Linked DNA regions of Homo sapiens: region 1 is linked to region 2. The links come from fine-mapping of genetic effects on gene expression. A gene starts in region 2. The other region holds a variant in brackets. All regions are shown on one strand. Distances are from middle to middle. Region 1 overlaps ZSWIM9 (zinc finger SWIM-type containing 9). Region 2 holds the start of PLA2G4C (phospholipase A2 group IVC).

Evidence for each region. PIP is the estimated chance that this variant, and not a neighbour inherited with it, causes the effect.
Region 1: its variant is fine-mapped to the expression of PLA2G4C in prefrontal cortex (BrainSeq, PIP 0.92).

What each region holds. Positions count from the first base shown.
Region 1 is chr19:48,182,004-48,184,912 of GRCh38, reverse strand. ZSWIM9 (zinc finger SWIM-type containing 9) reads right to left here. Exons shown (of 4, transcript NM_199341.4): 3 at 2,146-2,458. Among named protein-coding and RNA genes, the nearest start is that of ZSWIM9, 13 kb to the right of the region's middle. The variant GGT/T (reference allele first, on the strand shown) is at 1,117.
Region 2 is chr19:48,109,376-48,112,284 of GRCh38, reverse strand. It overlaps PLA2G4C (phospholipase A2 group IVC), which reads left to right and starts at 1,468. Exons shown (of 17, transcript NM_003706.3): 1 at 1,468-1,798. RefSeq lists an enhancer at 1,493-1,652.

The DNA of each region.
Region 1 (2,909 bases), 73 kb before region 2:
AGACCAGTGGAGTAGGAAGTGCATGTGTGTTTGTCCCCATGGTGAAGGTCATGGGTCTGGATCCAGGCTGTGTGGGTCCGAAGCCCAGCTCTGTCACTAAATAGCTGTGTGACTTTGAGCCAGTTACTTGACTTCTCTGTGCTTCAGTTTCCTTGTCTGTAAAATGGGGATGAGAATGGTGGACTATTTCCTCATAGGGCTCAGGTGAGATGAAAATGAGTTATAGTATGTAAAGCACTTAGGGTAGTGCCTGGCATATAGTAAGTGCTTGATAAACATTAGCTAAAATTATTATTATGTCGGGACAGAGGCCTGGGCTTGGGCTGGTGGCTTGAATCAGGGCTTCTTACTGGGCATGAGATGAAGACAGGAAGAGTGTGCCAGAGCTGAATCTCGACTTTACCCTGCCTTGGGACCTCTTCCACACACAAGGGAGACAAAGGCACAGCCAGGAGGAGAAACCAGTTCTTCCCCTACTTTCTCATCTTTCTTTCCTCTTTAAACTTCAAGTTCACCCCAAACTTGAAGTTGGATTAAAGCCGCAGAGATTCCTTATGGAGCAGCAGCCATCCTCACTGTTCCTCCAACACAAGCTTGCTCGTGCCTCTGGGCCTTTGCACTGGCTGTTCCTTCTGCCTAGAATTCTCTTCCCTCTGATGACAGAATGAGGGTCCCTTGCCTCTGTTCCATCTCCTCTGCTTCACCATCATTTGCTAAAGAGACCTTCCCTGACCAATTCAAACAGCACCCTTAGAACTGTCCCGCTCCAGGCCCCGGCCTTTTTCTCCTTGATGATAACTTATCGCTCCATCACATTACAGGACATAGCACTCTTCCTTCTCCTAATTCTCCATCTGCATGGTGGGTTCAGGTGTGTTCTCCCCTTGAGAACATTCATCAAACTAAGTATTTATCATTTGTGCATTTTCTGTTTGTGCAGTTCAATTAAAAAAAAAAAAATTTAAGTAGGCCTGGCGTGGTGGCTCATGCCTGTAATCCCAGCACTTTGGGAGGCCGAAGCAGGACTGCTTCAGTCTGGGAGTTCAAGACTAGCCTGGGCAACATAGGGAGACCCCCCCCCGCCAAACATCTCTACAAAAACTAAAAAATTAGCTG[GGT/T]GTGGTGGTGCACGCCTGTTGTCCCAGCTGCTCGGGAGAATGAGGTGGGAGGATTGCTTGAGCCTGGGACATCGAGGGTGCAGTGAGCCATGACTGCACCACTGCACTCAGCCTGGGTGACAGTGAGATCCTGTCTCAAAAAAAAAAAAGATTAAAAAAAAAAAACTTACATAGCATTTGTCATCACTGTGGCTCCCCTTCTTGCTAGCACCCAGCCAGCCCCTAGTGATGTTACATCATATTTGGACATGTTTGTCAGTTGTTGGTTTTTCCCGCCAGAACTGCAGGGGCGTTCTGGCAGTTACCTCTGCAAGGCAGCCAATAGCCATAGGTGGCTATTTAAATTTCAATTAATTAGAATAAATTCAGGCCGGGCGTGGTGGCTCTCGCCTGTAATCCTAGCACTTTGGGAGGCCGAGGCGGGCGGATCACAAGGTCAGGAGATCGAGACCATCCTGGCTAACATGGTGAAACCCCGTCTCTACTAAAAATACAAAAAAATTAGCCGGCGTGGTGGCACGCCCTGTAGTCCCAGGTACTCGGAAGGCTGAGACAGGAGAATCGCTTGAACCCGGGAGGCGGAGGTTGCAGTGAACCCAGATCGCACCACTGCACTCCAGCCTGGGTGATAGAGCACTCCAGCCTGGGTGACAGAGTGAGACTCCGTCTCAAAAAAATTAATTAATTAATTAATTAATTCAGTTCCTCAGTGTACTGGACACATTTCAAGTGCTCAGTAGCCACTTGTGGCTGGGGGTGCAGAATCACAGAACGTTTCCATCCTGGAAGAAAGTTCTACTGGGCAGCACTACCCTAGAAGGTAAGCTCTCTGCGGACAGAGACCACGTGGGTCTGGTTTGCTGCTGCATCCCCAATGCCTCGGTAAGTACTTATTGAATGAATGAACGGATGAATGGAGGAAAGGAGTGAAGGGATGAGAGGGCGGATGAAGGCATGAATGACCCACGAGTCTTCAGCGCGGCTTTCCCCCGCCCCCTCCCCCGGCCTGCCTCTCTCGAGACCCCACCTTGGCCTCGGGGTCGGTGCGGAAGAGGCCCTCGAGCACGTGCAGGGCGTCCAGGACGCCGTGGTCGCGGCCCTTGCAGTAGGACAGCAGGCGGCGCACGTCGGCTGGGGCCACGAACTGCTTGGAGATCTTGTTGGTGGTGCGCACCGGCAGGCAGGCGTTGGCCAGCAGGTGGCCCGGGCGGAAGTAGTAGGCGAACTCCAGCGGGCAGGCCGGGTGTGAGTGGGTCAGCTGGCACTCCGTCACCACGAGGCGGTCCCGCAGCGGGCTCAGCTTGACGATGATGAAGGCGGGGCAGCCGGGCTGGGGAGGCCTGTGGGAGGAACCACCACCGCCCTGGTCACATCACTCTGCTGCCCTCTTCTTCCTTTCCACTCACCTTTTTTTTTTTTTTAAACTAAGAATTGTTTCAGGCATAGAGAAGAGTAGAGGGCCCTAAGAATATGCCAGCTGTGTGACCTGGGGCAAGTCACTTCAAGTCTCTATGCCTCAGTTTCCTCATAGGTTACAAGGAAGGTCCTACTCATCATACCTTCCTCATAGGATCGTCATGAGCATGAAAAGAGTTAATATAGGTAAAGCACCTACACAGTGTCTGGAATATGGCAAGCAGTAAGTGTTCACTAAAATTCTATACCTACCACCCTTAGTTCTGTCAAAAGTGAGTGAATGTTTTATTGTATTTACCTTAACTTTTTTTAGAAATAAAAAATTTCAGATAGTCCTGTATCTGCTTCTGGTTTAGCAATAACATCAAAAGTTGA
Region 2 (2,909 bases):
ATGTAAGTTACCTTCCCTAGGTCCACTATCTAGGAAGTGGTGGGCCAGGGTTTGGTCCATGCTGTCAGCTCCTTGACCCTGCATCTATAACTACTAACTATACTGTGGAGAGCCTCATGAGCTCCTGCGAGGTGTAGAACCTTATCCCGCAGGCGGGGCAGTGGCATGGTCAGGTCTAGGAGTGAAAAGATCCTGCGATGGTTGGAGTTGCGGGCACTGAAGAGGTGAGCCTGGCGTTAGGGGGAGCAGGGGAGACCATCTTCCCCCTGGTGAAATCCTGTTCTAAAATTGGTGATACTCCTGCCTTGGCCTCCCAAAGTGCTAGGATTATGGCCTCATATCTATTTTTAAAAAATAAGAATTCAAGCTGGGTGCGGTGGCTCGCAACTGTAATCCCAGCACTTTGGGAAGCCGAGGCAGGTGGATCACTTGAGTTCAGCAGTTCGAGCCAGCCTGGCCAACATGGTGAAACCCTGTCTCTACTAAAAATACAAAAATAATTAGCCGGGCGTGGTGGCAGATGCCTATGTTCCCAGCTACTCGGGAGGCTGAGGTAGGAGAATCGCTTGAACCCAGGAGACGGAGGTTGCAGTGAGCCGAGATTGCACCACTGCACACCAGCCTGGGCGACAAAGAGTAAGACTCCATCTCAAAAAAAAAAAAAAAAAATTCAAAACCCATCGAGTTGGGATGACGCTTAGTGCTGGGCTTCAGGAAGAGTAGGCAGGAGGGTAGTATGGGAGGTTTCTAGGAGCCACTCTTGGAAGCGGTGCTCCCCACAGATGCCCGATTGCACTGACTGGAACTCGGTCACATGACCACATAACTCGCTCACATGACCACACCTAGCTGCAAAGGTGCTGGGAAATGTGGTACCCTGTTGGGAGGCCACTTCTGGGCTTCAAACCTTCACTGTGAATGGAGCTCACAGGTTTTCTAAAAATGGACATTAAATGAACCAGAGTTGGCCCTAAGGATCTGGCTCACTGCAACCTCCACCTCCCAGGATGAAGCACCTGCCTCAGCCTCCCGAGTAGTAGCTGGGATTACAGGCACACGCCACCATACCGAGCTAATTTTTGTATTTTTAGTAGAGAAGGTGTTTCACCATGTTGGCCAGGCTGGTCTCGAACTCCTGACTTCACATGATCCGCCTGCCTCAGCCTCCCAAAGTGCTAGGATTACAGGCGTAAGCCACCACGCCTGGCCTCAATATTTCTTTTTCTGGGTATTTGAGTATGATATTATATATGATGGTTATTAGACAGCCAGATGCATAGGAGGATTAGCTAATCTGTTTTGAGGAATACTTATCTCCAATATAGTTATATAACGACAACATTCTTTTTTTGAATACTGGTCTCGGGTGCCTAATGACAGAAGGGTGACATCACTAAGGAAGCCTGGAAAGTCCCAGCCCTCCACGTGATCCCACGGATGAAAATAGCTCCGGGTGAGCTCTGGAACAGCTGAAAAAGCTGGAGCAACCAAGCAGGGCCTACAAGCCGAGGAGGGCTGTTTAAAGGCGCAGGGGCCATTTTACCTCCAGGTTGGCCCTGCTCAGGACCAGGAGGAAACACCTCCAGCCCGCGACCTCCTCCCACAGGGGGAAAAGGAAAGCAGGAGGACCACAGAAGCTTTGGCACCGAGGATCCCCGCAGTCTTCACCCGCGGAGATTCCGGCTGAAGGAGCTGTCCAGCGACTACACCGCTAAGCGCAGGGAGCCCAAGCCTCCGCACCGGATTCCGGAGCACAAGCTCCACCGCGCATGCGCACACGCCCCAGACCCAGGCTCAGGCAAGCCGTGGGGGCAGGGAGGGCTGTTTCATCCCGCTGGGGCGGCCATAACCAAGTACCAGGGATTGGGTGCAATTAAATAACAGGATTTCTTTTTCTTTTTTATTTTATTTTATTTTATTTATTTATTTATTTTTTTTTGAGACAGCATCTCGCTCTGTCGCCTAGGCTGGAGTGCAGTGACGCGATCTCGGCTCACGGCAAGCTCCGCCTCCGGGGTTCAAGCGATTCTCCTGCCTCAACCTCCCGAGTAGCTGGGATTACAGGCGCACACCACCACACCCGGCTAATTTTTGTATTTTTAGTAGAGATGGGGTTTCACCATGTTGGCCAGGCTGGTCTCAAACTCCTGAACTCGTGATCCACCCCACTCGGCCTTCCAAAGTGCTGGGATTACAGGCGTGAGCCACCGCGCCCGGCTAGGAATTTATTTTCTAACACTTCTGGAAGCTAGAAGTCCAAGATCAAGGTGTTGGCAGGGTTGGTTTCTCCTGAAGCCTCTTGCAGAGGCCCTAATCTCTCCTTATAAAACCAATCAGGCTGGGCGCGGTGGCTCACGCCTGTAATCCCAGCCCTTTGGGAAGACGAGGCGGGCGGATCCTGAGGTCAGGAGATCGAGATCATCCTGGCTAACACAGTGAAACCCCGTCTCAACTAAAAATACAAAAAATTAGCTGGGCGTGGTGGCGGGCGCCTGTAGTCCCAGCTACTCCGGAGGCTGAGGCAGGAGAATGGCGTGAGCCCGGAAGGCGGAGCTTGCAGTGAGCCGAGACTGCGCCACTGCACTCCAGCCTAGGGCACAAAGCGAGACTCCATCTCAAAAAAAAATAAAATAAAATAAACCAATCAAACCAAATTCCAGGCCACCCTCAGGACCCCACTTTAACTTAGTCACCCCTTTAAGAGCCTATGTCTGGCCGAGTGCGATGACTCATGCCTATAATCCCAGCGTTTTGGGAAGCCAAGGTGGAAAGCTCTCTTGAGCCTAGGAGTTCAAGACCAGCCTGGGTGACATAACAAGACCTGATCTCTACAAAACATAAAAAATTTAGCTGGAGATGGTAGCATGTACCTGCACTTCCAGCTACTCGGGAGGCTGAGGTGAGAGGCT